Homo sapiens: one gene and its partners. The protein of the gene in region 1 purifies or fractionates together with the protein of each later gene. This does not show direct contact. Each region holds a gene or a part of one and is shown in the gene's direction. Other genes may lie near its edges. The genes, in order: LARP4B, STAU2, ADPRS, HEBP2, MKRN2, ZNF777 and RALY.

Region 1 (4,289 bases):
AAATTACTGGAATATCAGGGCTCTGTCTGTAAAATGACTTGCTGGAAATGATTAGTCCTCATTGCTCTGCCCATGATTTACAGCCTCAGATCCAGGTCTGCATTCATGGCTCTTCAAGTGTGATGTATTTTCTTTTTCTTTGAGACAGAGTCTCTCTCTGTCGCCCAGGCTGGAGTGCAGTGGCCGGATCTTGGCTCACTGCAAGCTCCGCCTCCCGGGTTCACGCCATTCTCCTGCCTCAGCCTCTTGAGTAGCTGGGACTACAGGCGCCCGCCACTACGCCCGGATAATTTTTTTGTATTTTTAGTAGAGACGGGGTTTCACCATGTTAGCCAGGATGGTCTTGATCTCCTGACCTTTTGATCCGCCCCCCCTTGGCCTCCCAAAGTGCTGGGGTTATAGGCATGAGCCACTGCGCCCGGCCATGTGTGATGTATTTTAAAAAGTCCGATTCTTACAGAGTGAAGAGTTTCTCAAGTAGCAAATTGAAGATTCTAACTTCCCTTTTGTATGATTTTATTTTAGTCCTAAGCTATAATATTCTTTTTCTGTTATATCTTCCAGTTAGCTCTAATTAAGGAGAATTACTTGCTTTTTTCCTTTCCTTTCTCTCTTCCTCCAAACAAGGAGGGCTCTATGCGTATCTCTGTCACTTTAGTGACATTGAGGGTGTGGACTGGAAGGCCCTCAGGAACTAAGTGCCCTGTGTCAGGAGCATAAGGAGCGAGATATCAGTGATGCAGAACGTATTGGAAACCATGGGTCCAGAAGCCAGAGAATTAGAATGAATGGTCTTGAGTTTTGTTTGTTTGTTTGTTTTTAAAGGAACTGTTTTAACAATAAGTTTTATCTTATTTTTGTATGTGTCTAGATTTTAAAAATAGTTGGCCGATACTTAAAATTCTATGCTCAATATTTTTAACTACTTAAGATCTTTTAGGGGTTCTGTGACCCTTTCTAATTTCTTCTGAATCTTATGTTAGTATATTTGCATGCCATACTTACCTTGTGACTTGGGGAATAATGATGATCTGAAAATACCCTGATCTGCAGAGCAGGACTTGTGTCGGGGTAAAGGTAAAGGCCCTGTCAGGCTGTGGTTGGATGAAGCCGAGTGAGCAGCAGTGGGTGTGCAGGTGCTCCTAAGATTGAGAATGTTGATGAGTTGTATTAAAGCCATCAGGAATCAAGAACTGTTGACTTCCTGCCAGTGATGGAGGTCGTATCAGACTGACATGCTAAAGGTTACAACACTTGTTGGAGCCCATGCGCTCTTGACCACGTCTTTCCTCTCAGTGCCTGCTTCCGCATGTGTCAGTTCTCCTCGCTGGATTGTTGTAAGGATTGGCTGAAAGGATGCACAAAAGCTCCAGCCTACTTCTAAACAGCACCCATTGGTGATAAAATTGTAAAATACATGTCTCAGCATGGGTCATGACTCTGACAACATCAAGAAATGCCCTCAGTTTCCACAGATTTGTTGGTATTAATGAAATTGAAGTCTGTTTTATGGTTTATTTACTTGTCTGTTTTCAAATGAATCTAGGTAACTCCATTTCCAAATACTGGATTTATAAATGGGTTTACGTCTCCAGCGTTCAAGCCTGCGGCGTCTCCTCTGACTTCTCTCAGACAGTATCCTCCTCGAAGCAGGCAAGTTCCGGGGCGGTCTTAGCAGTTTTGGTCTTTACGCTACTGCCCTTCCGGAGTTGGGATGAGAGAGCTTTGATCACTAGTCCTGCTCCTCGCAGACAGAGCCACCTGAAGCACACAGCTGCATTCTGTAAAGACTAAGCACTACAATCTGGCATGGGTGCCCGCCTCAGATTCTCTGAGAGGAGGCTTTGGGGCAACTTGTACACATCAGGTGTGCCTGATTTTAATTTGGGCCTGGACTGAAAAACAGCTAAGCAGAATTGTGGCACATTGTTAATAGATTTGCATTATCCTATATGTTAGGAGTTAACCATTCCAAATCCTATTTTTATACTTTATTAAACAGAGAGCAGATTTCAGCTTAGCTATTCCATGTCAGTATGCATGTTATGTAATGCCTTGATCATTTTATAACTCAACACATAAAACCATTTTTATTTACAGGAATCCTAGTAAATCTCATCTGCGGCATGCGATTCCTAGTGCAGAGAGGGGACCTGGGTTATTAGAAAGTCCTTCAATATTTAACTTCACTGCAGATCGATTAATTAATGGTGTCCGGAGTCCACAAACAAGGCAAGCAGGTCAAACTAGAACACGGATTCAAAACCCTTCAGCATATGCCAAGAGAGAGGCTGGGCCTGGGCGTGTGGAGCCAGGCAGTCTCGAATCCTCTCCTGGTTTAGGGAGGGGAAGGTGAGTTGTTGAGCAGTTACTGTGTAACATCATAAACTAATATTTTAAAAATTATTTAATTTAGATATGTTTTGTAATTGTCTTTAAATATGTCACAGAAAATCTAACTGAAGGCTATAAACATAAGGGTTTTATATAATTGCTAAGACTTAAATGGCTTCATCTTTTTTGGAATATGAAATGGTTCAGTGAGAACTGTAGTTGTTTTAGATCATTATTTGTAGAAACACTGGAGCTCAATAGCCATAGACTCCATCCCATGTGCCTGCAGTCTCCTCTTGGCAGCACCCCTGGCTCACCAGGCCCCTCTGCAAGGGCGGTGTCCAGGCTCTGCCCCATGGCTGCTGGCCTGGCGCCCTCCAGCTGGGTGTGCACCAGGCACTGCAGGTGGAGCCTGGAGCGGGTAACCAGGCAGATCAGCATTGCAGTCTCATCTCATTGGAGGGTTGAGACTAGCCAGGACGGGTCTTAGCTGTGCTTCCTGCCCACCATTTTTGGTTTTGTTTAACATTTTTTTGGCATCAATCCTGTAGTAGGTTTTTGTTTGTTTGTTTGTTTGTTTGTTTGTTTTTAAGACAGGGTCTCACTCCGTTGCCCAGGCTGGGGTACGTTGGCATGATCATGGCTCACTACAGCCTTGAACTTCTGGGTTCAAGCAATCCTATTGCCTCAGCATGCTGAGAAGCTAGGACTTCAAATGCACACCACCATGCCTGGCTAGTTTTTAAATATTTTGTAGAGACAGGATCTCGCTGTGTTGCCCAGGCTGGTCTTGAACTCCTGGCCTAGAGCCATCCTCCTGCCTCAGCCTTCCATAGTGGTGGGATTACAGGCATGAGCCACCGCACCTGCCCATTGTTGATAAGGCCAGTTGATCTTCTCAGTCCTTGCCTTGGTAAGGACCGTCAGGATTTTCCTCTCATAAGTGACAAACAAGTGACTCAAATACCTGAGCTTTTTCAGGGTGTTCTATATACAATGTGTACAGCACCATCCCTGACGTGCAAGCTCCTCTTCCTGCCTGCCACAGTGCACACCCTCTGTGCAGTGAGAATTCAACATGAAGAGGCATCAGAAGCATCTCATTCCTGCCCATAATGATTCAATGAGCACATAGGAGTTCCTGCAGGGATTGTGCAGTGGCATTGGAAGGCACCATGGTCTGGGAGAGCTGGCACTGGCCTGTGTCTCACAGGAAACATGGCATCAGGTTGGCTCAACAGGCCTTGGAGATGCAAAGCCAAAAGGGGCCCACCGTGTCATGGAGAGTCAGTGACTTCAGGGAGCAGTTGCTAGCCCTGGGTCTCAGTTTGGGGTTCTTAAGACCCAGACGCTTGGAGGGAGGAGGGTTGCAGAGCTGGGGCTCAGACTTGGGACAGAGCCCTACTCATCAAGGCCATGTGGCTCCCTCTGAGGGGCATCAATTGTGGGCACGGTGTGGAAGGAGGCAGACTAGATGGACAAGGCCCCCCGGCCTCAGCCTCCTGTGCTCTTCAGTGTGCCTTGTTCATACGAGCGTCACAAGGAGTTTCCTGGCAAATGAAAGTGGGGCTTGTTGAATTCCAGCTACCTCACAAAATGTATACAGGTGGCTTTGAAGCTGAGAGTCCAAAGCTTGCTGACGAATGTGGTCTACCCAGGATACCCTTCAACAATACTTGAACTTCCAAATGCAACTGTAACAAGTTTATGCTTTTGCCTGACAGATGCAGATCTTGCACCAATGGAGACCCTCTCTCTCCCCACCAAGGGAGGACAACTGTCCTCCCACCTGAGACCTGAGCACTGCGGCAGGGAGTGGTTTAGGAAGCGCACACCAGCATGGGCACGGTGGGCAGGGAGTGGTTTAGGAAGCACGCACCAGTGGTTTAGGGAGTGGTTTAGGAAGTGGTGGGCAGGGAAAGCGCATGCAACTCCTGCAGCCTGTTTCTGCGATG
Region 2 (4,289 bases), on another chromosome or scaffold:
TCTCTAGTGAGACCCCTATCACATTGTATTATCCATTTTCGTTCCTCTCCTGATAGACTGAGCATGACTTGAGGTCAGGACAGTATTGGTTGGTGCGATGCCTGAAGCTTAACTAGCACAATAGCAGTTGGAGCTTAACTAAGAGAGTATGTGCATGTGTGTAACCGAACAATAGAAATAAAGATGTGTTGGGATCAAACAGCCTGGAGTATTGGATATATCTGTGTAACTGGAGCATGGGATCTTCATGAAATATTTCGTAGATGAAGATAGAGCGATAAGTAGGAGCCAGATTATTAAGGGCTTCCTAGGTTATCCTAAGGAGTTTGGGTTCTATAGTGTAACTGATAAACTGGTGAAAGACCTTTAAGTAAGAGAATGTTCTAGCCTTGGCAAGATGGTAGAATAGGAAGCCCTGGAACACAGCAATTCAACAATAATTTATAGGCAATTTTTCTTTGTGAGAAATCCAGAAACCAGTTAAGAGGCTCCTGTATGCCGGGTGAGCATGAAACCAGCCAGATCTTAATTGGCAGGGAAATTTAAGATACCCTCATGCCATAATCCCTCCTCACAGTGCAGGGCCATACAATCAGGACAACCACCCTCCACCCCCAGCTCCCAGCTTCTTTCTGCCTAGAAGGGGAAAGATGTATACCACGCATCCAATGCCTTAGCTTTTCTGGGGCTACCCAGAGGACTGGCTTCTGTCTGGCCAGTCTCAGAGTGCTGACAGGACATGGCATATTTTAGCAACCCCGGGGCCAATGAAGAAAGAGGTGGCTGGTGGTGGTGGTCACTGTAACCATCCCCTGCTCAGCCCAGCACAAAGCTAACTGTTGAAAAGCTTCAGCTTTCAGCTTTTTCCTGGAGAGGCAAAGAGGAGCACCATGTATCCAATGACCCAACTTATCTGGGAGTTGCCTGAAGAATTGGCTTCAGTCTTGCTTGTCTCAGAGCTCTGATGGGACTGAGACAAGCAAGGGACTGATGCCTGGGGACTGCCAAGAACAAAGAAAGTGGATTAGACTAGCATAAAAGTTTGAGAGGCCTCCAGAATCTCTGTCCAGGCTGATTGGTTAGGATCTTCTCCAGTATGAGGCCAGTTTGTGCAGACACAAACACAGAGAATCAAGGAAAAATGAAGAAACAGGAAAACATTTCCTAAATAAAGGAATGAGATAAAGCTCCAGAAACTGACCCTAATGAAATGGAGATATGTGATTTACCTGACAGAGAATTCAAAGTAATCCTTACAAACATTCCCACTGAGGTCTGGTGAACAATGCATGAAAAAAAGTGAGAATTTCAACAAAAAGAAAACTTTAAAAAGTAGCAAGCAGAAAGCATGGAGCTAAAAAATACCATAAACTGAAAAAGTTACCAGAGGGATTCAATAGCAGACAATGTCAAGCAGAAGAAAAGGTCATCAATCTCAAAGACAGGTCATTGGAAATGACTGAGTCAGAGGAGAGTTGGGCTAGCCTCCAGCATTTCCCAAAGTGTTAGCTGTTTTATTCATGCTATGTTAAAGGCTTGGACAAAAAGTAAACTCAGGAATCCTGAGTTAAACCAAGTCGAATAGATTTTTGTTCTTTGAGTTTTCTGATTCTTCACTATGCTAATGTGTATTTTTAATTTCACAAAAGGCATTTGTATTATGTAATTTGCATTATTTTCAGTTTTTATTTATGGAACCATTTTATTTGGGGACCATGTTATAGAACACATTTTGGGAAATGGACACTGAGAATACTAGCAGCAGAGAAACATTGAAAGCTTGAATCAGAAGGTTAGCATCAGGAGAGGAAGGGGCAAGAACAGGAAATTAAGTTGTGTCTCTCAGAGCACATTCTTTATGAGTGGTGACTTACCAATAATTTTAAAAGATAATATCATTTGAGAGTTATTGATACCTGATCAAAAGATAAGAATAAGCAGTTTGAAATGTGGTTTGAAACTTCTCTGAGACAAATGATAGTCAAAGGAAAGTGCTTCTCTAATATGGTTTAAGCTCCATCAACTAATGACATAGCCCCCACTCCTCTTGATTTCAGAACCTGTCCATGGCCTGGCTTGAATTAATGCACTAGATAATCCCTACAATGGTCATATTCTTGAGATGTTTGAGCAACACGATAACTACTTGCTTATGAGTAAATCAGAGATGGTTGCCAGGAGTCTAGGTTGGGTCATGAGCAGCCACATGGTAGTATGAGCAAAGCAAGTTAGAGACAGTGCTAGTTTTGAGATGATACCCATTTGCTTTTTTATGTGTTCGTGAGTTAGAGTTGTCTGTGGGACATCCTTGTGGAGGTGAGAGGATCACTAGGCTGTTGAATACATGCGTTTGTACCTCCAAAGAAATTTGGACTGATTCAGCCTTTATTTTACCTGATGTGCCTCAATTGCTGTATGTGTTGGGGTTTCATGCCTCTTTTATGAGATATAAAATATTAAATTGCAGGGTGAAGACACTGCACATTCCTGATTTTCTGCCCCATTATACTTCCACACATTCAGTTTCCCTTGTCCCTTTATAGCTTCACTACTACACATAAGTCCCATTGAAACCACTTTTTTTGGATGTTTTTAAACCTCTAATTTTAGGAAAATTGAAATAGACATTATTCACCTTTCAATAGAAGCTGCAACTGCCTCTACAGTATGACAAAGATACTTGTTTGGCAGTGTTTCTCATTTCTTTGTTACTACACCAAGTAAAGCCATTGAGTTAATAATGCTATGTTTCTATTTCGGTTATTTTAAGTGTAATAACAGTGTTCTTCATTTTATTTATAGCTCCAAAAGGAATTCTTCATTTGTCTCCTGATGTTTATCAAGAGATGGAAGCCAGCCGCCACAAAGTAATCTCTGGCACTACTCTAGGCTATTTGTCACCCAAAGATATGAACCAACCTTCAAGCTCTTTCTTCAGTATATCTCCCACATCGAATAGTTCAGCTACAATTGCCAGGGAACTCCTTATGAATGGAACATCTTCTACAGCTGAAGCCATAGGTTTAAAAGGAAGTTCTCCTACTCCCCCTTGTTCTCCAGTACAACCTTCAAAACAACTGGAATATTTAGCAAGGATTCAAGGCTTTCAGGTATGAATTAAAAGCAAAAACAAAAAACAAAACAATTCATTAGCCTCAGATTCTTCATCTGTATACATCACAAGGCTCATTCTTGCCTGCTAGTATGGCCTACATGCCACTTACGTTTTAAGTTATTTAGGAACACAAAGGACAGACAAAAAAGCCATATGCACATGCCTCATTTTCTCTTATTTTTGATCTATCTAGTAATTCTTTTGCTGCCTGTCTCTTCTCCATTTTCCTTCTTCTTTTTTAAGCATTTTTCATATTCTTCACTGTCTTCTATTTGGTCTTGATTAGGTGCATCTATCTCTTCGCTCTGTCTTCCACAAACAAAAATTCTGCCTTCAGACATTTGGTGTTAGTATTTCACACTCAGTTCTCCCTTTTTTTACATAAGGATTGAGTTTCTTTTTATGATGATTTTACCTTTATAGCAATTTTGAATTTTGCATTCTATTGCTAGTATTGATTCAGGTACACCATTAAGATACAACATTCTAGAAGTCTATTACCTTAGGAGTTAATTAAACATGATATTTGAAGAATAATGAAATGCTTTATAGTTGTTTGAGGCATAACAATGTGTATTTGTTTTACTGGATCATGTTTTGAACTGACTAGGGAGGGTAGCACCTGCCTCAGATAGTACCAACAATTCTGTTTCACTGGGTAGTCTAAAACTAGCTTATAGTTTAACTTAACTTGTTGTGTATGTGAATTTAGGGATGGAAACTTTTTTTCCCCTATTTATTCTTTGTTTCCTTCTGGGAAAAAACCCCACAAAAATCAGCACTCCTTTATGGATACATTGGAGCTTTTGAAAGAATTGTAAACTCTAGGAAGGGGAAATATCTGTGTCTTGATTTCTTAGTTGCCTTGAAAATCATGTACTGAACTGTAACCGCTAACTTGACTGGATGAACTAGTTTGCTTGTGTGTAGAGAGTGTATTGCTTCCTCAGATTTCACTGTTTTCATCTCCTTTTCCATCTTAGTCTTTATTCCTTAAGACCAAAAACTGTAATATCCTTTAGAAATGCTCTAGAAGATCTGTATTGTGTAGAATGATCATGTATTTATAAATATTTTACAAGTTTAGATTATAAAATGAAAAAGAAGGTCATGTGTTTTGGGGGGTATTTTGCATGTTCGGATTTTTTTTTCACTTCACCGAACCCTTCTGATT
Region 3 (3,330 bases), on another chromosome or scaffold:
GACATGGCTCACAGGTGAGGGGGATGGTCCTGGGCTGAGGCAAACCAGGTGGGAAAGTTATTGCACCCCTTGACCAGAGGAATGACATTTGTGCATGTCCACGCCCCCAACCCTCCACAGAAGCCTGTGTCAGGCTGGCACAGCTTCCCAAGCTAAAACAGCAGCACTGCTGGTGCAGGCTCCTTAGGCCCCCGAGGCTTTCTCTTTTTCCAAACTAGCCTCGATTTCTTCTCTCCCAACCCTTAGAGGCATCTTGTAAATCTGAATTCTGTCTCCCCTTCTGTTCCCTAGATTTGCTCAGGAGTACAAGAAAGACCCTGACAGGGGCTATGGTGCTGGAGTAGTCACTGTCTTCAAGAAGCTCCTGAACCCCAAATGTCGCGATGTCTTTGAGCCTGCCCGGGCCCAGTTTAACGGGAAAGGCTCCTATGGCAATGGAGGTGCCATGCGGGTGGCTGGCATCTCCCTGGCCTATAGCAGTGTCCAGGATGTGCAGAAGGTATTCAGGGCGGGCTGGCTTCTGGGCTGTCCCCTTCCTCTTCTGCAGCAGGGCTTCTGTGACAGCAGGTCTCCTCCTCCCTAGTTTGCCCGGCTCTCGGCCCAGCTGACACACGCCTCCTCCCTGGGTTACAATGGCGCCATCCTGCAGGCCCTGGCTGTGCACCTGGCCTTGCAGGGCGAGTCTTCCAGCGAGCACTTTCTCAAGCAACTCCTGGGCCACATGGAGGATCTGGAGGGTGATGCCCAGTCCGTCTTGGATGCCAGGGAGTGAGTATGGGGCTGGAGGTGTGTGGTGTGGGTATGTGGGTGATCCAGGGGGCCTCTGGCATTGCCGCAAACTGTAAACCTTCCTCAATTGCAGACCCTAGGGAGGCATGGGCAGAAGCCCCTTTATCTTGTCTATGTTTCAAGGCTCTCAGGGTCCCAGAGAACGAAACGACCTGCTCACCCCAGCCCTCTCCCACCTCTTGTCGGCACCTGTGCCTGGCTGCCAGCCTGACCACATCCCTGCTCGTTCTCACATGCAGCCCTCTCCCCTGCCCGCGCCACCACCCTGCTAGCTCTGACCTCCCTGAAATCTCCCCTAAACCACAGGTTGGGCATGGAGGAGCGTCCATACTCCAGCCGCCTGAAGAAGATTGGAGAGCTTCTAGACCAGGCATCGGTGACCAGGGAGGAAGTGGTGTCTGAGCTAGGTGAGTGGGTCTGCCTGGGATTGTCTCTCCCTCTGTCGTCCTTCAGGGTCGGTCTTGGGCTCAGGGGAGCATGGAGTCATGCCTGCCGTCGCATTGTACCCTGGGCTGCTGTGACACGGAGTCAATGGCAGGGTTGAGCTCAGCGCTTCTTGCTCTGAAGCTACAGCACCCTCAGCCTTGTGGACCAGTGTCCCCAGAAATGGCAGCTGGCCACTAGTCGTAAAAATGTTGATAATGGATTTTATTTGTCTAGCATCTATACTGGGCGTTGTGCAGAATGCTTCACAGACACGATCTCGCTTCATCCTCACAACAGCCCTGTCAGAGAGTTGCTAACGTTACTCCCTGTCTGCTTAAGGAGTTGAATCTGGGAGCAGGAAGCTTAGCGGTCCCCTAGGTAACTCTCCCAGTCACGCAGCCAGTGTGTGGTGGAGCCAGGATTTGAGCCCAGGTGGTCTAACTGTAGAGCCTGAGATCTTAGTCACAGCCTGCTTGAAGCCGAGAGTGCTGACTTGTGTCAAATGGTAGGAGGCCTGGGGAAGCATGCAGCCCCTCTAACCTGGCTTCCCCACAGGGAATGGCATTGCTGCCTTTGAGTCGGTACCCACCGCCATCTACTGCTTCCTACGCTGCATGGAGCCAGACCCTGAGATCCCTTCTGCCTTCAATAGCCTCCAAAGGACTCTCATTTATTCCATCTCACTTGGTGGGGACACAGACACCATTGCCACCATGGCTGGGGCCATTGCTGGTGCCTACTATGGGATGGATCAGGTGCCAGAGAGCTGGCAGCAAAGCTGTGAAGGCTACGAGGAGACAGACATCCTGGCCCAAAGCCTGCACCGTGTCTTCCAGAAGAGTTGATGAGGGCTACAGCTGTTGGGGCTCTGCCAGGTCCCCTGGGACCAACTACAGCTCCAATCAGAAACCCTGCGCTTCCTTGAGTGTGGCTTCCCACTTTTCCTGCATTGTGGAGCTGACTGAGTACACCGGTGAGGCTGGGGTCTCTGCAGGGGAGGTCACTGGAACAGCGAGCAAGGGACTGGTGCCTCGCTGGTGCTGGGTCTCTGGTTTGCTGCAGAGCCGTAGGACACTCCTGGCTCCTCAGTAGGACAGACAGACGCAGGCGGGTTTATTTTGGAGGGGTACTTGTGGCATTTTCCTGTATTGTCTTGGACATGGGATGTGGGGAGGTGGAAATGATGAGCAGTAGCATCATTTCTCCCTGTTGGGTTTTAGCCAGTTTGCCAGCAAGCGCATCCTAGCAGGGTCCCCGAGCAGCAGGTTGTGTGGATGAAGGGACAGGCACTTGCATCCAGCTGATCTAGGTCACACCTGGCTCTTGGCTGCCATGTGGCTTATTAACAGCTTCCAGTGGAAGTCGCAATAAACAGTTTTTGGTAAATCTCACCACTGTTTCTTGTTTCTCCTGCCCTGAATGGATTCTCCCCTGCCAGCCTGATCTCTGAAGACTAGTGCCTTTGTCTGTGCTGCACTGTCATAGAAGCTGGGGCCCCAAGGCCATGAGCTGCTGTGTTGCCAGGCACTCCAGCTGGCTGCGTGTTCAGCCAGGAAGGGCACAGCAGGCATGGTCTGGTGGCTTTTCCTGTTAGAGATCACTCAAAGTGGCCCAGGCTGCTGGGCCGAGTGCTTTGCCAGAGGCAGCGGGTAGGAACAAGCCAGATTTTTCTGTTCTCAGAGCCTGACTTCCCCAAACAGGAGCTAGGCCCAGCTGGGCCAGGAACAGGAACCCTGTAGAAGGATCCAGAGGGCCCTGCTATCATCAGACTACCAACCTTTGGGTGGGGAGGGCACCATCACGGGGCCCCGGGTGGACTGAGTGCCGTGTGCCTCCTCCTGTATCTTGGGACCAATCAAAAGCCTTTCCCTGCAAGGAAGTTTTACACAGCATGTTTTTAGAGATGGGGTCTCACTCTATTGCACAGGCGATCCTCCCACATGGGTTCCCAAGTATCTGAGACTAGCATCCATTCTGAAGAAGGGAAAATTGAAAGGGGGAAGATGCCTCCCCTCAAACTCCAGGGACATTCTCTGAGCATCCAGCCTCAGTGGCTAGCCGAGCATGTGCAGTCTGCAGCTGCCCTGCGGTTTCAGCACTCTCGGGCAGATCTGT
Region 4 (4,289 bases), on another chromosome or scaffold:
CCAGTGATTGCTCAGGCGAATGGCCTGGAGGCAGTTTCTAGGCAGCAAAGCAGGGAGAGGGAAGCCAGAGACCAGTGGTCCTGCTGTGTTGAGGAGATGGAGATCAGTGTCACCGGAGGCCAAGGTGAGTAAGTGAGAGGAGAGGAGGCAGCAGCACACAGACAGAGAGTGCTGTAGATCTGCAGTGGGTCCCCTGGAGTCCTTGGTTGAGTGAAGGTGTTAGAAGAAACTACTTAAGCCAAGAAATGAGTAACTGGAAATTAGTAGAGCAAATAATTTACAGATCATCTATGGGGCTGGGAAAAGTTTGTGTTTCCACTAGCCAGAGTAGAAATAACTCATAATGCATGGGTCATCAGGTGGAGTCCTCCAACAGGTGTTGCCTTAGTACTGAGGTCAAATTGTCCCTAGACCAAAGGCTTCTTTGGACTTCCCCTAACAAAGCTTAAAGACAAGCCTTGGAAGGATCAAACTAATTTCAAGAAACTTAACTGTGAATCAGAATAAAACCCAATACCATTTATAGGAATATAACAAAATCCATCAACAAACAACATAACACTCATAATTACCAACATTCAGTAAAAAATTACTGGAAACAGAGAAATATAAATTATGGCCCATAATTAGGAAAAAAGGGTAATCATTAGAAGTAGAACCAGAAGTGACAGATATGAAGAAATTAGCAGCTTGAATTATGTGATGTGGCAGATCTTATGTATTGGAGGTAGGGGGAAAGAAGATGCAGTGTGGAATAGATGACAAGGCCCAATGAGAGAATCACAGTGCAGGTCCCTGGGGCCCTGAAGGAAGGTGGTTCTAACCACAGGAGAGGATCATATGCTTTTTGAAAAACAGCCTCTGCTGTGCTACTGGGCCCTGGTAGACACGGAACTTTGAGACCCAGTGATGCTGTATCCAGAACTGCTCATCTTAACTAGGTCCTGTGGGAAGCACTAAGTCATAAGCTAGTAGGATCGGCAGCAGCCCATTGGAAGATGGAAATGATATGTACAGGAGCAGTTCCAAGCCAGACCAGAGGACATAAGCAAACTGCAAGAGCAATTACTCCAACCGCCATGTCTGCACAGTGGCACCTACATCCCCCCTCCCTGTGGTTGTTGGAGGACCTGTATGATCCACTGAAGGAAGAGGAATGCTTGGGCTTGGTTTATTGATTAGTTATCTTCTGTAGTTGCAAGCTGAAAATGGACCTTCACTCAAAGGTGACATTGAAAAACGGGAAAAAAATTGCAATCTTCCTGCAAAAACTGGGCAGAATTTTTTGAGGTACACTGGATCATTCACCTTGTGAGGGAGGACAGGTAAAATATTTATGGAAGTGGCAGAAAATGGCCTGCCAGCTGATCAGGAGTTTGGGAGGAAAAAAACATGGATTAGGAGGTCTGGGGTAGAGGCATGTGGATGGGCATATGGAGTGAACACAGAAGTTGAAAAACTGTATCACATGTTAATGCCCACTAGATAGCACCCACCAGAGAAGAGGCACTAAACAACCAAGTAGATGAAATGACTTAGCCTGTTCTATTAGCTTTTGCCAGTGCCCACCTCAGTGCTGGTAAAATGCACACATAAAGTGGCAGTGGTGGCAAAGATGGAGGCTATGGATGGAACCCACCAACATGGGCTCCCACTTACCAAGGCCAACTTAGACACTGCTCACTGTGACTATCCAACCTGCCTGCAACAAATACCAATGCTGAGACCCTGATGAGGCTGTGAAGACCAACTGGTCGCTTGATAGCAAATTCACTATGGTAGGCTCATTCTTTCCTAGAAGCACCAGCAGTTTATTCACACAAGGACAGACTTCCTATTCTAGGTATGTGGTTCCTTTCGGGCCTACAGGGTCCTGAACACAATCTAAGGACTTACAAAACATCTGAACTGTCAGCGTAGATTTGCTGAATACGTGATCTATACATGTTAACACCCAATCAGGGAGAGTTCGCCAGCGGTCATAGGATCCACTGCTCCTATCACATACTGCGCCACCTAGAAGCTGCTAGACTGATGGAATGTTGGCATGGCCTGCTTTAGTGCCAGGTGGGAGACAATACCCTGCCAAGATGTGCCACCGTCTCCTGCACACAGTATACTTATTGAATCAGAAAGCCTGTATGATGCTGTGTCTACAACAGGAATATATAGATTTCAGAACCAAGGAGTGGAGGCAGGAGTGACCCCACTTACCATCGCACCCAACGAACCACTGAGGGACTTAGTACTTCCCATGCCCACAACTCCAGGTTCTACAGCATCAGAAGTCCTAGTTCTCAGAGACTGTATACCTTCTCTAGGCAATATTGCAAGAATCCCATTGAACTACAGTCTGCTGCTACTATGTGGGCACTTTGGACTCTGTGTTCAGGGACCAGTAGGCAAGAAGTCACCATCTAGTCAAGGGTAATTGACCCTGAACTGCAGGAGGAGGCAAGCCTGCTGTCAGAGGATAGTGGCGAGAGCAATGTGTGTGGAACTTAGCGGACCCACTGGAGGCACCCTCTGTACTCCTTGCCCAGTTGTAACTGAATGGACTAGTGCAGCAACCCTGGTCTGAGAAGGGTTTGGCTCCCAGGAGCTCAGGACCCTCAGGAATGAGAGCTTGGTTTATACTATCAAAAAAGCCACCAAGACCAGCAAAGATGACAGTTGTGGGTGAGGGGAATTTAGAATGAAGCAGGGAGTAATGAGGACCAGTTGTGGTTCCAAAACCATTTGCAGGAAGGTGCTATAGTTGGTCCTACCAAACTCCTCTTTCAACATTTATCCTCAGGAAGAGAGGTCCATTGGCGCCCTGAAACAGTCACTCTCTGCGTGTTTTTGGGAAAATGGATCCACATAGGCAAGGGGTGGACCATGGCAGGCATAGAGCGGTGCCACTTAGATCCCCCTTCAAGACAAGATATGCCATCCAGCTGCAAGGAGTGTGGGTAGCTGGCAGCCACCAGCTGCTACTTCACCAGGATCCACCTTAGCTTTCAAGCTGAGGTCACGCTATTCTCAAGACAGGAGGGGTTGGTGGCCAATGATTTCACTAAATTATGGAAATTGAGAGCATGCTTTTCTGAGGGGGCCCTCTTGCCAAAGACCAAGCAAGGCCATGGTACAAGGACCTAACTGTTTCAGTCCAACACAGGACTCCTCCAATGAGTGACCTTTTTCCCAGAGTTCCCCTGGGATGGCAGCTCGCCTGCTCTCCCTGCCTCGTCCTGCTTCCTCTTTTCCTTTCAAAGGTGCTTACTCCAATAATAAATCCTTTGGTATTCTAACTGTCTACTTCTTGAAGAATCTAAACTGGCAGTAGGATCATGCCCCTCACTGATAGCTCAACCACGTTTTCTATCTTTGGGCCTCCTTGTCTTTACCTAGCACATGAGAAGCATTTATTAGGACTTTTTTTCCCCCATTGCTGAACAAATGACTACAGATTGCTCTACCTCTTGTTCTGTGAATAAAGGCTGGCCGCTGTGGAAGGTAGGTCAGAGCAGGCAACTGAGAGAAACTGTATTACAGTTACCGAGTGGCTTATTAAGGAAAGTGGCGCAACAATCAGGTCCATGTTTCATTCAAATGACCCTCCATTCCCCCAACAACATCCTCACATCTGCCAAAGCAAATTATGCTGCTGTGCTCATTTGATGATGGAATCAGCATCGCATGCAGGCTGAACCCCTACTACGGCAGAACCAAGAAAGCCACTCTTTCCCCTCTCCTCCTAAGATGCCACCACAGAGCAGGGTGCCAGTGGTGGGTGGGGAGAAAGACGGAGACACAGAAACGTCTCCTTTTCACTGTGATTCTCCTAAGGAATATACAGTCACCCCCACAGGAAAAGCAAGAGTTCAATCAAGATTCTTCAGAAATAGTAGGATGGCAGAAAGCAGATCGCATTGAGGTTGTTTCCAACTGACAGACCAAGCAGTAATTTGTTTCTCTCCCCACTGATAGTAAAAATAAAGTGGAAATAATTTAGGGCTGGGGCTTCTGTGATTATCTGGAACTTAAAGTATGAGGGTATGAGAGCCATCAGATCTACCCCTGTGGAGCTTTTTAAGATGCGGTCCATAACAGAAGCGGGCCCCAAGGAGTAGAGTAGCCACATGGAAGGTGCCATGTTTCAGGGATGAGTCTCGATTCTTCTCTCCCTGTATTTCATCCATGCCTGTAAGAAGTTCTCACGTCTCTCCACATGCCACGTCATCTGAACCGCCAGGCGATAGGTTATTCGTATTTTATTCCAAAGTCCATAGGACACGATGTGGACT
Region 5 (4,289 bases), on another chromosome or scaffold:
TCCATAAAACTGGTCCCTGGCTCCAAAAAGATTGGGGACTGCTGATCTAATGGTAGGCCACAAGAGGGTGTTTCCTGGGGAAAGCCTAGCTGACTACCTAGCAAAGGCTGTAGGATGGCACCATTGTATAGTCACTTAAGTCATGAGGTCCAGTTCTCATTTTGTAGGCTCAGAAATTTGATTCTGTTGGTGTACATAGAGGTGGCTCATACTAGCCAAACGCATGAGAGACTGACTTATATACTAGAATATCCTTTTATAATTTCCCTGGGAAAAAAATAAACTGTCAGGTAGGTCTGGTCAGCACTTCCTCTGCTTTTGGGGAGAGAAACAGGTGGAGAAGTCAGAGGTTTCTGATTGGGGCGGATGTGCAGCATGTTCACTAGTACCCTTTCTCTGGAGACACCAGCAGTCTGGGCCTCTCGGGCCTCCCTGGCATTCCTTGCATACCATTCCCTCCTGTTGTCTAGTTCTTTTTTTTTTTTTTTTTTTTTTCCTGAGACGGAGTCTCACTCTGTCGCCAGGCTGGAGTGCAGTGGCACGATCTCGGCTCACTGCAGCCTCCGCCTCCTGAGTTCAAGCGATTCTCATGCCTCAGCTTCCCGAGTAGCTGGGATTACAGGCACCTGCCACCATGCCCGGCTACTTTTTGTATTTTTAGTAGAGACGGGGTTTCACCATGTTGGCCAGGCTGGTCTTGAACTCCTGACCTCATGATCCGCCTGCCTCGGCCTCCCAAAGTGCTGGGATTACGGGTGTGAGCCACCACACCCGGCCAGAATCACCTTTCTTTTTAAGCTTGATTGTATGGATAGACCACATCTTGTTTATGCATTCGTCCATTAGCGCACGCTTGAGTTGCTTCCACCTTTTGGCTATTGTGAATAATGCTGGTATGAACACGGGTGTGCAAATGTTTGTTTGAGTCCCTACTTTGAAGTCTTCTATTTTTTTTGAAACAGATTCACTCTGTTGCCCAGGCTGGAGTGCAGTGGCGTGATCTTGGCTCACTGCAACCTCTCCCTCCCAGGTTCAAGTGATTCTCCTGCCTCGGCCCCCAAAGTAGCTGGGATTACAGGCGCCCACCACCACGCCCGGCTAATTTTTGTATTTTTAGTAGAGATGGGGTTTCACCATGTTGATCCGGCTGGTCTCAAATTCCTGACCTCAGGTGATCCACCCACCTCGGCCTCCCACAGTTCTGGGATTACAGGCGTGAGCCACTGGGCCTGGCCTGAATTATTTTGTGTCTATACCCAGAAGTGGAATTGCCGGATCATATGGTAAATATATTTTTAATTTTTTAAGGAACTTCCGTACTGTTTTTCTATAGAAGCTGCACCATTAGCTGTTTTATAATCTACTCTTCTCAGTTAATTGTGTTTAACTTTCCATATTAATAAATTTTCATTTTATACCTAGTCCATACTCACATTTATTTCAAAATATCTTTCAAAATATCTGGTTTCAAAAATGTCTTTTGTATCTGGTTTGTTGAAACCAGATTCTAGTCCAGAGGTAAGTATTGCATCTGGTTATGTCCCTTGTGTTCTGTCTGCTAACCTAGCATTGTCCCTTCCCTTTTTTCTCTTTTTTAACAGCTTTTTCTGAGGTATAACTTATATACCATAAAATTTACCTGTTTGAAGTGTACAGTGCAAAACTTTTTAATGAATTTACAAAGTTGTACAACCATCACCACAGTTAAATTTTAGGACATTTCTATCACCCCCAAAAGATCCCTTGTGCCCATTAACAGTCACCCTCACTTCTCTCCTCCCAACCCTAGGCAACCACTTAATCTACTTTTTGTCTCTGTAGATTTGCCTTTTCTGACATTGCATATAAATGGAATCATGCAACATGTGGTCTTTTGTGTCCAGCTTCTTTCACTCTGCGTAATGTTTTCAAGGTTCACCCATGTTGTAGTGTGTGCCAGTACTTCTTTCCTTTTTATGGCTGGATAAGAGCCCATTGTATGGATAAATCACATTTTCTCTGTCTGTTCATCAGTTGATGGACATTTGGATTGTTTCCACTTTTTGGCTGTTATGCATAGTGCTGCTTTGGACATTCATGTACAAGTATTTGTGTGGACATAGATTTTCATTTTCTTGGGTACATACCTAGGCGTAGAATTGTTGGGTCATATGGTAGATTTATGTTTACATTTTTTAAGAAACTGTCAAACTGTCTTCCAAACTCAGCCTCCTTTAGTTACATGGCACTTATAAAGACAGTAGGCCTAGGTCCCACGTACAGCCTCTTTTGTATTTATTTGGTTGTTTTCTCGAGATGTCTTTCATAGGTTGTCCCCAGTCTCCTGTATTTTCTATGAACTGGATGTTAGATCTGGAGTTTTGTGGATTCAAATTAATTGTTTCTGGCTAGAATACGTCATAGGTTGTTTTATACTTCATTTTGGGTCATATCAGCAGGTACATATTTAAGTTTTTTCCAAGTCGATTTTGGGTCCAGCATCATTTGTTGAAAAGATTCTTTCCCCAACTTACCTTTTTTTTTTTTTTTTTTTTTTTTTTTGGGAGACAGGGTCTCACTCTGTCACCCAGGCTAGAGTGCAGCAGCATGATCTTGGCTTATTGCAACCACTGCCTCCTGGGCTCAATCGATCCTCCTACCTCATCTTCCCAAGTAGCTGGGAGCACAGGTGCACGCTACCGTGCCTGGCTAATTTTTTGTATATTTTTTGGTAGAGACGAGGTTTCACCATGTTGCCCAGTCTCATCTCAAACTCCTGAGCTCAAGCAATCCACTCACCTTGGCCTCCCAAAGTGCTGGGATTACAGGCATGAGCCACTGCATGCGGCCTATGTGTGGTTCTATTTACAGGGTTTTTTGTTTGTTTTTTTGTTTGTTTTGAGACAGGGTCTTGCTTTGTCACCCAGGCTGGAGTACAGTGGTGCAAACAGAGCTCACTGCAGGCTCTCTCCTTCTGGGCTCAAGCAGTCCTCCCACCTCAGGCCCCCAAGTAGCCATCATGCACGGCTGATTTTTGTATTTTTTATACAGATTGGGTTTTGCCATGTTGCCCAGGCTGACCTCAAACTCCTGGGTTCAAGCAGTCCTCACACCTTGGCCTCCTGAAGTGGTGGGATTACGGGCATGAGCCTCTGAGCCCAGACTATTTATGGATCTTTAAAGAATCCCTGCAGCCTCCCTAAACTCAATCTCTGTGATTTGCCTGAGGTTCTACTCCCAGTACCAAGACCTAGAATATGCCTCCAGGTAGGAAGTCAGACTAAATGTGGGGCTTACTTCCTGTGTTTCCCTTCTCTTAAGGACCAGTCCTTTTTTCTATTGTCTGAAAGCAGTTGTTTCACATATTTTGTTTCATTTTTCAGTTGGGTTTGTTTTGTTTTGTTTTGTTTTTTTACAGTGAGAAGCCAAGATCCATGCTCCTTGGTAGTCAGAAGCAAGTTTGTTTCTCTCTCTCTCTCTCTCAGATGGTTTCTATTCTGTGTCTTCAAGTATTCTGATATTTTCCTTTGTAGTATCCCATCTACTAAACTCATCTAATGTAATTCTCATTTCAGACATTGTATTTTTCACTTCTAGAAGTTTCATTTGTTTTTTGTTTTGTTTTGTTTTGAGGTGGAGTTTCGCTCTTATTGCCCAGGCTGGAGTGCAATGGCGCGATCTTGGCTCACTGCAACCTCCGCCTCCAGGGTTCAGGTGATTCTCCTGCCTCAGCCTCCCAAGTAGCTGGGATTACAGGCACCTGCCACCACACCTGGCTAATTTTTGTATTTTTAATAGAGATGGTGTTTCACCATGTTGACCAGGCTGGTTTCGAACTCCTGACCTCTGGTCATCCACCCACCTCAGTCTCCCAAAGCGCTGGGATTATAGGCGTGAGCCACCACACCTAGTATTTGGTCTTATTTAAATCATCCATTTCTCTCCACATTATGTTTATGTTTTTCTTTAAATCTTTCAGCATATTGAGCATATGTATAATAGCTGTTCTTAAGGTCTTATTTTGCTGATTCCATCATCTCTGTAATTCCTGTTCTTTATTTTTCTCCTGGTTATAGGTCACATTATTTTCTGCTTTTTGGCATATCTAGTAATTTATGATTGGATGCCAAGCATTGTGAGTTTCTGAGCATTTGGATTGTATTGTCTTCCTTTAAAGTTTGTTTTGGCTGACAGTAAGTTATATACTTGCTATCAGCTTGTGTTTTTTTTTTTTAAGCCTTATTAGGGTGTGTCTAAAATACTTCTACTCTAACACTAGTTTACTTTTTTTTTTTCTTTTGTGAGACAGG
Region 6 (4,289 bases), on another chromosome or scaffold:
TCCAAATCCGGAAATGGAGAGAGACAGTCTAATAATAGCAAAGAAATAGTATTTTCCTTTGAGCTCTGATTTGTCTAGCTGGTAAAGATGCCTTGGTCTGCTGGCTCTGTTTACTATACTGGAGGGTTTTGTTTTGTTTTGTTTTGTTTTGTTTTGTTTTGTTTTGTTTCATTGTTTCAGTTAAACCTCTGCATTACTCAGAGAGACTAACTTGCTCCCCAGGGATTTTTTCCTCTTCTTCTTTCTAGTGCTAGGCAGATACCCTAATCTCCCTCTAAGGCAAGGGCTGTAATGTGCCTATTGTGTTGCGTTAGGCAGTCACTTTCCCTGAGAGCCAGGCGCCTAGCCTCCAGGGCCCCCAGCGCTTCCTTCACAGGGAATGAAGAGTTCAGAGGTGGCTTAGCTGTTGATGAGCCTGCAGGTTTAGGGGTCTGTGAGCTCCTTGAAGATGTCTGCAAAATTCTGTGTATGTGCCCTTTTGTCTTTTTTGAGGACAAGAACCCAAAACTTTCATTAGGTTTTCAAAGAGGTCCCTGACCCCAACTTAAATGATAATATCTCTAAAGGCAAGGCCTTCCTCCCCACCTCTCCCAACCCTATCAAACCTGCCACAGGTCTTTGTGTATAAATAATATCCAGGCCTCGGGATTTTAGAGGTAAAAAGGATTCAGAGCACACACCTGCCTGGCCAGCTGCCTCAGTTGACAGTTAAGGCCTCAAGGTAGCCTGCAGGCTGTGGAACCAGACCACTGGGTGACCTGGGGCAAGTTGCTTAGTCTCTCCTGTCCCCAGTGTCTTCCTGTACTAAGTATGGATAGTAACTCTAGTAGTACCTGTTTCATAGATTTTGTGAGGATTAAATGAGATAATCCTTTAAAATGCTTAACACAGCTCATGGCACATAATAAATGCTGGATAATTGTTAGCCATTCTCAGCTGATTAGCGCTCATGTCTGGTTCGCGGCAGAGGCTATTAGACGATACTATCTCAAAAACCTTTTGTGAATAGGATCTTGAATATTCAATCCGTGGCTTAAAAGTGTGATGCTGTCACAGTTAAGTCACCTATAAATGAACCAATAAAAGAAAAAAGCTGTAGAAGATATGGAATTGCTTTAGATAAGTCTCTGATAGGTGACTAAAGGAACGTCATTGTTTATCCTAATAATTTTTTTGTAACTCAACAATTTACTCTTCAGCCGGCATTTATCAAACACATACTATATGTCAGACTGAACACTGGGGCTATGCCAATTTTCAACGGAAGAAAATTGAAATTTTAATTAAAGACCACTTGGATATAGAGCATAGTGACTGAGCAGATTGACTGAAGGAAGATGATGAGGGAGTGGACAGAAATTGTTACAGGAGAAATTGTGTTAGGTTCCAATAAAGATACTGATGATCTAGGTAAATACATAACTAGTTACTCACAGAAGATCGTGGCTTCGCCTCCCCAGTGATTCAGGAATTCTCTCGATGTGAGTATGGCAGGGTGAGGAACAAGGAGAGCGTGGGTCATTGAGATCCCAGAAGGACTCCAAGTCTTTATGTTGGTCTAGTCCCCCCAAATCTGGATACAAGTCACCAGTCCAGCTGACTTCTGCTCTACTTCCCCATCCTTCCAGGCCTCACTACTTCCTCATTCCCCATGTCGGAAACCCCAGGGTGGAACCCAGACCACCTGAGCACACCTGCTGCAATGGACTGCTGCCCACTCCTAGGAGTGGTTGAATTGCCTGCCTTCACCTGCCTCGATGTCTCGCTCTGCTTATAGCAGAAGCCAGGCCAGAATACCCAGAAGCCCGTTCAGCCTCTACAGCAGGGGCCGGGCACATAGAAGATGTTTCCAAGTCAAACATACATATACCATACTGACTCATTGATATGAGTCTGCAATGCAACTGTTATCAAAGAGTAAGAGTCTGGGAAACTTCAGATAATGTCATGTCCTCACTTTTGGACCAAGCGAAGGAAGGAACCCAGGGCACCACAAAGGCCTAATGCTGGTAGAAGTGGTGGTGGCTGGATGCCAAGTCCACCTTCCAGTTAAGAACATTAACAGTTCTGGCCCCTGCTGGTGAGCCCCCCACCCCTGCTGGGAGATGTGGGATAGTAAGTGCTTGGCTTTTACAAAATTCTGCTCTTTTGTTTCTCAAAGTTTTATGTTCAGTGCTTCAACAACTCAGGTAGTGTGTGTGTCAGATATTATTATCCTCGTTTTATGGATGAGGACACAGGACACTAAGAACAGAGAGGTCAAACGACCGATCCAGAGTGACACAGGTGGCAATAGGTGTAGACAGGGCCAAAAGCTCTAACAGGAGTCCAGCACCCTTCCGCTCTCCCACACTGCTGTTCGTAAGGTACCCGTGCAATGTATGTTGTGAAAAAGGAGATGGCTCTGTGAGAAACAAAAGGTAGCATAATCATCTTTCATTTGCGGTTCATAATAGTGGTATAATTGATGTCTAAATTGGTGCTGTGGTCTCTAGAAGAGATTCACATATGAGGGGCACATATTATTGCTACCAAACGGAAGCACTTTTTATGTGTATACTTGTCTTTGGGTTTTATTTTGCTAGCTGGAGACTGTGGCCTTTAATCCTCTTTTCCTTTCTTCCATGAACACAGGTTCAGCAGCTGGACATGGAGAACCAACGCTCATCACCTCTGTCGTTCCCCAGTGTTCCACAAGAAGAAACCTTACGTCAGGCCCCTGCTGGACTCCCCCGAGAAACTCTGTTCCAATCCCGCGTTCTTCCTCCCAAAGAAATTCCTTCTTTGTCTCCCACCATTCCCCGTCAAGGCTCCCTGCCCCAAACTTCCAGTGCTCCCAAGCAAGAGACTTCTGGCCGGATGCCACATGTGCTCCAGAAGGGACCCTCACTCCTGTGTTCTGCCGCTTCTGAGCAAGAGACTTCTCTCCAGGGCCCCCTGGCTTCCCAGGAAGGGACCCAGTATCCACCCCCAGCTGCTGCTGAACAAGAAGTCTCCCTTCTCTCCCACTCCCCCCACCACCAGGAAGCCCCCGTTCACTCCCCTGAAGCTCCTGAGAAAGACCCCCTGACCCTTTCCCCAACAGTTCCCGAGACTGACATGGACCCGCTGCTCCAGAGCCCGGTTTCCCAAAAGGACACCCCTTTCCAGATCTCTTCTGCAGTCCAGAAGGAACAGCCGCTCCCCACGGCAGAGATCACCCGCTTGGCTGTGTGGGCTGCCGTCCAAGCAGTGGAGAGGAAGCTGGAGGCCCAGGCCATGAGGCTACTGACCCTGGAAGGCAGGACGGGGACAAATGAAAAGAAGATAGCCGACTGCGAGAAGACAGCCGTGGAGTTCGCGAACCATCTGGAGAGCAAGTGGGTCGTGTTGGGGACCCTGCTGCAGGAGTATGGGCTGCTGCAGAGGCGGCTGGAGAACATGGAGAACCTGCTGAAAAACAGAAATTTCTGGATCCTGCGGCTGCCCCCCGGCAGCAATGGAGAAGTTCCCAAGGTAAGCACATCCCAACTGGGGCTTCCCAAGGAAGTGATCTGAATTGGAGTGTGGTTTAGGAATGTAGTGTAATATGAAAGAAAGGGGTGGTTGATAAAGGAAAAAATACAGTGATCCCAGTTGCTAGGACATGCCAAAATCAAATTATTTCTCCTGTTGATGAGAGTATAGGCTAGTACAGAAATGCCCCTGGGATCGGGGATTGTCAGTTTGGAAGGGTGTTCAGCAGAGCTGTCCATGGTGTGAGAGACTACGAAGGCAAAGCGAAGGCCGATGAGAGCCGTGGAGAGGCTTTACCATCAGTCACTGAGGGTGCATTAGCTTCACAATTGCAGCAGAGGAAGGAGCTTGGGTTAAACATCACAAGGATCTGTCCCACTCCACATTTTTATGAGTTCACTTATAAGCCATGTTAGTGCCAGGAAAACTGATTTCAAGATGTTTCCTTTCAAAAGCTAGAGAAGTTAGGTTTCCATATTATTTTCCAGAAGGTTCTGAAAGAGCTTGAGTGTGGACTGGCTTGCTTTCTCTTCTTCAGTGCTGCTGCCCCCTTTCACAGCCATATGTAGGGAGAAAACAGACTCTGTTCTCTAGCCCGGTATGTCTCAAATGTTACTGTGCACATGGATCTCCCCGGGATCTTACTGAATGCAGAAGCTATTTAGTAGGTCTAAGGTGGGGTCTGAGCAAGTTACCTGGTAGCACCATTGCTGCTGGTCCACAGACCATGCTTTAGAGCTGCAAGAATTATATCCTGAAGGGGAGGAAAAGGATCCGACAAGACAGGCCCCTCA
Region 7 (4,822 bases), on another chromosome or scaffold:
AGAAGACAAACTAGAGAACATCTTGAGACAAGGTGTTCAGGGAAGAGTTCTTTTGAGAAGGTGATATTAAAGCGAGTTTGGGGAAGAACGTCCCAGGCCTTGCGCTCAGGGTCGTCAACTCTTTGATTTCTCTTCCTTTTGAAGCAGGGCAGGGAGGTCATCAAACAACAGAAGGACAATTATAACTGCTGGTATGGCAAAGCCAGGACTCTGAATTCAAACTCTGCTCCATTCTCAGGAATCCCGTCTGTTAAGCAGGTTCTGGGGAAGCGATGTGAGTCATGAAATCACAGGTCGGAGGAGGCATCGAGAATATGGTCAGTTCTCAACTTTCAGGGAAATCCATAGCTGAGGAATGAAGGACAACGGGCTTCTCGTGCTCTCACTAGGAAGACTGGTTCACCGGAGGCTGGAACACTGAAAGTGAGAAATCCCGACAGGAGAAATGTGTAGGAGAGAGGACTAGCACCTGGATCAAGTTATAAAACATCTCCTGCATCTTTTTCGGAGATCACCCTTAGCGCGGCCTCTCCGCCCAGTCCCAGATTAGGCAGCGAAGAGCGACCCTCACCTTGTCTAGGTGGCACGTTCCTTAAAAGCGAAAGGACCAGGAGTTTCTTCCTGCCTCGTCTCTTCCGGATCCCTCCTGCACCGCCCACAGCCTGCAGATTTGAGCGCCATCTCCAGGCCCCGCCCACCTCAAGCACCACCCCTCAGTCCTTCCTTGGGGCACGCCTCCTTCCGGCACCCGCCCAGAGTAGCCACCCCCGGGGCCCCTCCTCCCCTCCCTGCTTCCGGGCCCGCCTCCTTCAGGCCCGCTTCCATCTTCCTCCCACTCTAAGCTTCTCTTCAGCCCCGCCTCCCTCCACCCGTGGCTCCGCCCTCTGGGCGATTCTCCATTTAGCCCCGCCCACAGCATCTCCTTTCAAGCGCTGTCCTGGTTCCCGGCTCTCCATCTCCTGCACGGCCTTCCCCACTGGTCCGGCGACCCTCTTCCCAGGGCCTCATCACCATCTTAGCTCCGCCCCTACTTCGGCTCCAAACCTGTGCAAGCTGCCCTCTTCCCGCCCCAGCCCCGCCTCCCCAAGCCGCGTCTCAGTCCCTCCTCCCTTTCAGGCCCCACCCTGGCCCCGCCTTCCTCCCGTCCCCGCCGAAGCTCTGGACCTTTCCAAAGCCAGGCTGAGAGGGTGGGGAGAGCCCATGCGCCTGGGAAGCCGGGCTGTTTCTGGGCGGGGCTGCAGACTCCTCGTGCTCGTGTCACCGTGTCCTTCCCAGGAGACAGAGAAGGAGGAGAGCCCGGAACCAGGGCCGGAGCGGCGGGCGGAGCCGAGCTGCGGGGAGCCGCTCCGGGTGCCCCCACCCCCGCGCGCCTCAGTGGTGCCGGCCGAGGGCAGGGCTCGCGGTTGCGGGGCTCGCGCCGCTGTCAGTGCGGCGGGGCGCGCGAGCGGCGCCAGCTCGGGGCAGCGGAACCCAGAGAAGCTGAGGGGGCGGTAGCGGCGGCGACGGCGACGACGACGACTCCCGCGCGTGTGCCCAGCCTCTTCCCGCCGCAGCCGCCCTTTTCCTCCCTCCCTTACGTCCCCGAGTGCGGCAGTACCGCCTCCTTCCCAGCCGCGCGGCTTCCTCCAGACCTCTCGGCGCGGGTGAGTGGGGACTGCGGGCGTCTCCTTAGGGGTGCGGGGAGGGTGTGTGCTTTGTGCCTTTCCGTTCACTCACTTCTTCCGGCAGGCCGCTGCCTATTTTTAGAAACTTATTTCTGCCCTTCGGGGAGTCCCGGGAGCCCGAGTAACTCTAGGCCCCCTCCGCCGCTCCTTTCTCCCACTCGGACCCGCCGCCCCGGGTCCCCGGCCCCAGCCCTCCGCGCCCGGTCCTGCTCCCGGCGTTCCCTGTCTGCTCTCTCCGCGGGCCAAGTCTGGGCCAGTAGTTGGCTGGGTGGGCCCGCGCCCGCTCGGAAGTTGGAGTCTTTTGTGCTCGTGCCCCGCCCCGCCCGGCGAGGGGCGGAGGGAGGGGAACGGAGGCTGCTCCGGGGAGGCCGCAGGCGGGCCCGGCCGCGGCTGCTTCCGGCTCTCCTAACCCGGACTGGGTCTACGGGCTCCCGGAGGCGCGCAGAGCTTGTCCTGCCTCGGCTCCCGCCTCTTCTGGGCTCTTTGCACGCCTTGGGCTCGGAGAGAAACAACAACGGGCCCTCGAACTGGGGCCGTATCCGCGTTTCACTCAGCCTCCTTGGCGGCCGAGTCTTAGTTTGCCTCTCGGTGACATGGGGGGAAAGAAGGAAACTCGCTTTGCGGGGTGTTCGTGGATTCAGGGAGGGAACTAATATGTGAAAGAAGTGTTTAACACCGACAGGGAACATTTAATGAGACTTCACCCAGGAACTTCCCAAGCCTTATTTCATTTAATGTTCACAACGGCCTTCTGGTTTATCCTCATTTACAAAAGCAGAAATTAAGGCGCAGAGGGGTCAAGTAATTTTCTCCAAGTCACAGTAGCCACAGAAGTGCAAAGGAGTGGTGCCAGTACCTATTATTTATTAATATTTCCTGGTGTGAGCATGTATCATCTCTTAGTGCAGAGGGTATTTTTACCTAGCCTTGGGTCACACCATTTAATTAGGGGCATAACTCTGGGTTTTCCCTGACTTCTGGGCCGTTGTCCACTATACTGTGGATGAAATCCCATTCTGGGGTTACCATAGTTCTAAAGGGAAAGGTTTGGATGAATTCCTTGCTAGTGTTGCGGCAGTTAGAAGTTGATGGATGCAGACTCCAGGTCTCAGACACAACTCAAATTCCCTGGGGTTTTGGCTCAAGGAAGCTTTGAGACTGTAAACGGTGGGATCCACCCTTTAGTTTGTGTGTGGTGTGTTCCTCCTCCCAGACCTTGCAGGTTCTCTGTGTTTAGATTTATCGATCCTAGTTTGATGGGGGTTAGGGGGAGTAGCTCAAGTCATCTGCCTTCAAACAAATATTACTCCTATTTTCAGATAAGGCCCAGAGTGGTTAAAGTGAACTAAAATTAACTTTGGCAAATGTTCCAGTTTTTCAATGTGATCCGGTTGGAGGGAGTGTCTAAAAATCAGGCAAGGGAGTTTCTGGGCCAGGTCTTGAGGAGTCTCTTGATGTTCACATTAGTTCTTTGGAGTCTGGTACGTCTGTGGTGCCTGGCCAGGATTCTGGATTTACGAGTCCTATGTGGGAGCTGAAAGGGGTCTTACCATCTGGTCCAACTTTTTCATATCTGCCTTTCCCCGCTTCCCTGTTAACTGAACCTTGGAAAGGGGAAGTAAGTTGTCTGAATTCAGACTGCCTTAGTGTCAGAGTGAGAACTAAAATTTCCAGTCTTCTTCCTCCTAATCCAGTAATATTTTTATTTCTCCCATACCTTGCCACTTCTTAAAAGGGCACGAAACCACTTATTCAGGTCTTAAGGTCAGGAATCCTGAGTAATTGGAAATCCCAAGGAAGTTTTATAGTCCCCACCCCTTTCTGTGCCTTATGGTTAGTATTAAGAGGAGGCCAGGTTTAAGCACAGGTGTACTAGTTCTCGTAAGTCACCACTTCGGTTTTATGTGTTTATGGCTTATATACTCTTCCATAACCATTATCTGATTTAATTTCTAATCCATTTCTGTGAGGTAGTTTGCAGAGCTTGGTTTATGTCTCTTTTTTTACTGTGAGGGAATGGAGACACAGCATAGCACTTGCCTTAGATGACAGAATGAGTAAGTAGTGAGGACAAGACACCTCTCTGGAGCAGAGGATTTGATTTGACATCATAAACTGAGCCACTCATTGTGGCTCTCTGAGCCTCAGTTTCCTTATCTGTAAACTCATAGGGTTGTTGTGGGGATTGTTAAGAAAATGGCTATGAAAGTGCTTTATAGTGGTAGTAATAATAGCTAAATTTATTAAGTACTTAACGTGTACCACCAGTCAATGGACTGAGGACTTTATGGACTATATTACTAATTCTTAGAGCAACCTATGAATTAAGTACTATTATTATCCCTGTTTTATAGAAGAAACAGGCTTAGAGAGGTTACATTACCTGCCTCAGGGTCATGTAACTGGTAAGTGGCCATGGCAGTATTCAGACTGCAGACAGTATAACCTTAAAGCTGGCATGCTTTTTTTAAAAAAAAAATTGTGGTAAAATATATATAACATAAAATTTACCATTTAACCGTTTCAAAGTGTACATTTATGTGACATTAAATACATTCGCATGGTTATGCAACCATCATCACTGTCCATTATCTTCCCCAACTGAAATTCTGTACCCATTAAACTAACTCCCCCTTCCCTCCTCCCTCCAGCCCCTGAAAACTATCGTTCTACTTTCTGTGAATTTGACTACTCTAGGAACCTCATGTAAGTGGAATCATGCAATATTTGTCCTTTTGTGCCTGCAAAGCTGGCACACTTAGTGTCTTCTTTAGTCTCAGAGTGCATTGTAAATGCAAAATTATTAGTCCTCACCTGCAGCAGAGATGTGGCATGCAGCTCCAGGGCAGGAACCCAGGCCTCTCTGAGTAAGACCTACTTTTCTCCCCCTTAGGTTGATGTTCTGTATCACTGAAGCCTGTTTTGAATCTCTGCTGGCCCCCCAGTATCTGCAGAAGAGACCTTATACCCTGTTTTTTTTGGAGACGGAGTCTCACTCCGTCGCCCAGGCTGGATTGCGGTGGCACGATCTTGGCTCCCTGCAACCTCAACCTCCTGGGTTCAAGGGATCTCTTGCCTCAGCCTCCCGAGTAGCTGGGACTACAGGCATGCACCATCACGCCTGGGTAATTTTTGTATTTTTAGTACAGATAGGGTTT

The links.
Region 2: the proteins of LARP4B (region 1) and STAU2 purify together in Homo sapiens (affinity purification with mass spectrometry; one large-scale study listed by BioGRID and IntAct). This does not show direct contact.
Region 3: the proteins of LARP4B (region 1) and ADPRS purify together in Homo sapiens (co-immunoprecipitation; one large-scale study listed by IntAct). This does not show direct contact.
Region 4: the proteins of LARP4B (region 1) and HEBP2 purify together in Homo sapiens (co-immunoprecipitation; one large-scale study listed by IntAct). This does not show direct contact.
Region 5: the proteins of LARP4B (region 1) and MKRN2 purify together in Homo sapiens (affinity purification with mass spectrometry; one large-scale study listed by BioGRID and IntAct). This does not show direct contact.
Region 6: the proteins of LARP4B (region 1) and ZNF777 purify together in Homo sapiens (affinity purification with mass spectrometry; one large-scale study listed by BioGRID and IntAct). This does not show direct contact.
Region 7: the proteins of LARP4B (region 1) and RALY purify together in Homo sapiens (affinity purification with mass spectrometry; one large-scale study listed by BioGRID and IntAct). This does not show direct contact.

What each region holds. Positions count from the first base shown.
Region 1 is NC_000010.11:823,128-827,416, reverse strand, and holds part of LARP4B (la-related protein 4B), read left to right. Parts: intron 1-1,546; coding exon 1,547-1,653; intron 1,654-2,100; coding exon 2,101-2,352; intron 2,353-4,289. UniProt on the Homo sapiens protein: Stimulates mRNA translation.
Region 2 is NC_000008.11:73,550,833-73,555,121, reverse strand, and holds part of STAU2 (double-stranded RNA-binding protein Staufen homolog 2), read left to right. Parts: intron 1-2,802; coding exon 2,803-3,110; coding exon of another isoform or gene 3,111-3,116; exon of another isoform or gene 3,117-4,289. UniProt on the Homo sapiens protein: RNA-binding protein required for the microtubule-dependent transport of neuronal RNA from the cell body to the dendrite.
Region 3 is NC_000001.11:36,091,327-36,094,656, forward strand, and holds the end of ADPRS (ADP-ribosylhydrolase ARH3), read left to right. Parts: coding exon 1-14; intron 15-291; coding exon 292-499; intron 500-583; coding exon 584-768; intron 769-1,095; coding exon 1,096-1,196; intron 1,197-1,770; coding exon 1,771-2,060; 3' UTR 2,061-2,606; downstream 2,607-3,330. UniProt on the Homo sapiens protein: ADP-ribosylhydrolase that preferentially hydrolyzes the scissile alpha-O-linkage attached to the anomeric C1'' position of ADP-ribose and acts on different substrates, such as proteins ADP-ribosylated on serine and threonine, free poly(ADP-ribose) and O-acetyl-ADP-D-ribose.
Region 4 is NC_000006.12:138,417,547-138,421,835, forward strand, and holds part of HEBP2 (heme-binding protein 2), read left to right. Parts: 3' UTR 1-4,289. UniProt on the Homo sapiens protein: Can promote mitochondrial permeability transition and facilitate necrotic cell death under different types of stress conditions.
Region 5 is NC_000003.12:12,563,011-12,567,299, forward strand, and holds part of MKRN2 (E3 ubiquitin-protein ligase makorin-2), read left to right. Parts: intron 1-4,289. UniProt on the Homo sapiens protein: E3 ubiquitin ligase catalyzing the covalent attachment of ubiquitin moieties onto substrate proteins.
Region 6 is NC_000007.14:149,454,383-149,458,671, reverse strand, and holds part of ZNF777 (zinc finger protein 777), read left to right. Parts: intron 1-2,634; coding exon of another isoform or gene 2,635-2,649; coding exon 2,650-3,495; intron 3,496-4,289. UniProt on the Homo sapiens protein: May be involved in transcriptional repression. Inhibits cell proliferation through CDKN1A/p21 induction by down-regulation of NIBAN1/FAM129A at low cell density.
Region 7 is NC_000020.11:33,992,489-33,997,310, forward strand, and holds the start of RALY (RNA-binding protein Raly), read left to right. Parts: upstream 1-1,422; 5' UTR 1,423-1,643; intron 1,644-1,716; exon of another isoform or gene 1,717-1,879; intron 1,880-4,822. UniProt on the Homo sapiens protein: RNA-binding protein that acts as a transcriptional cofactor for cholesterol biosynthetic genes in the liver. Binds the lipid-responsive non-coding RNA LeXis and is required for LeXis-mediated effect on cholesterogenesis.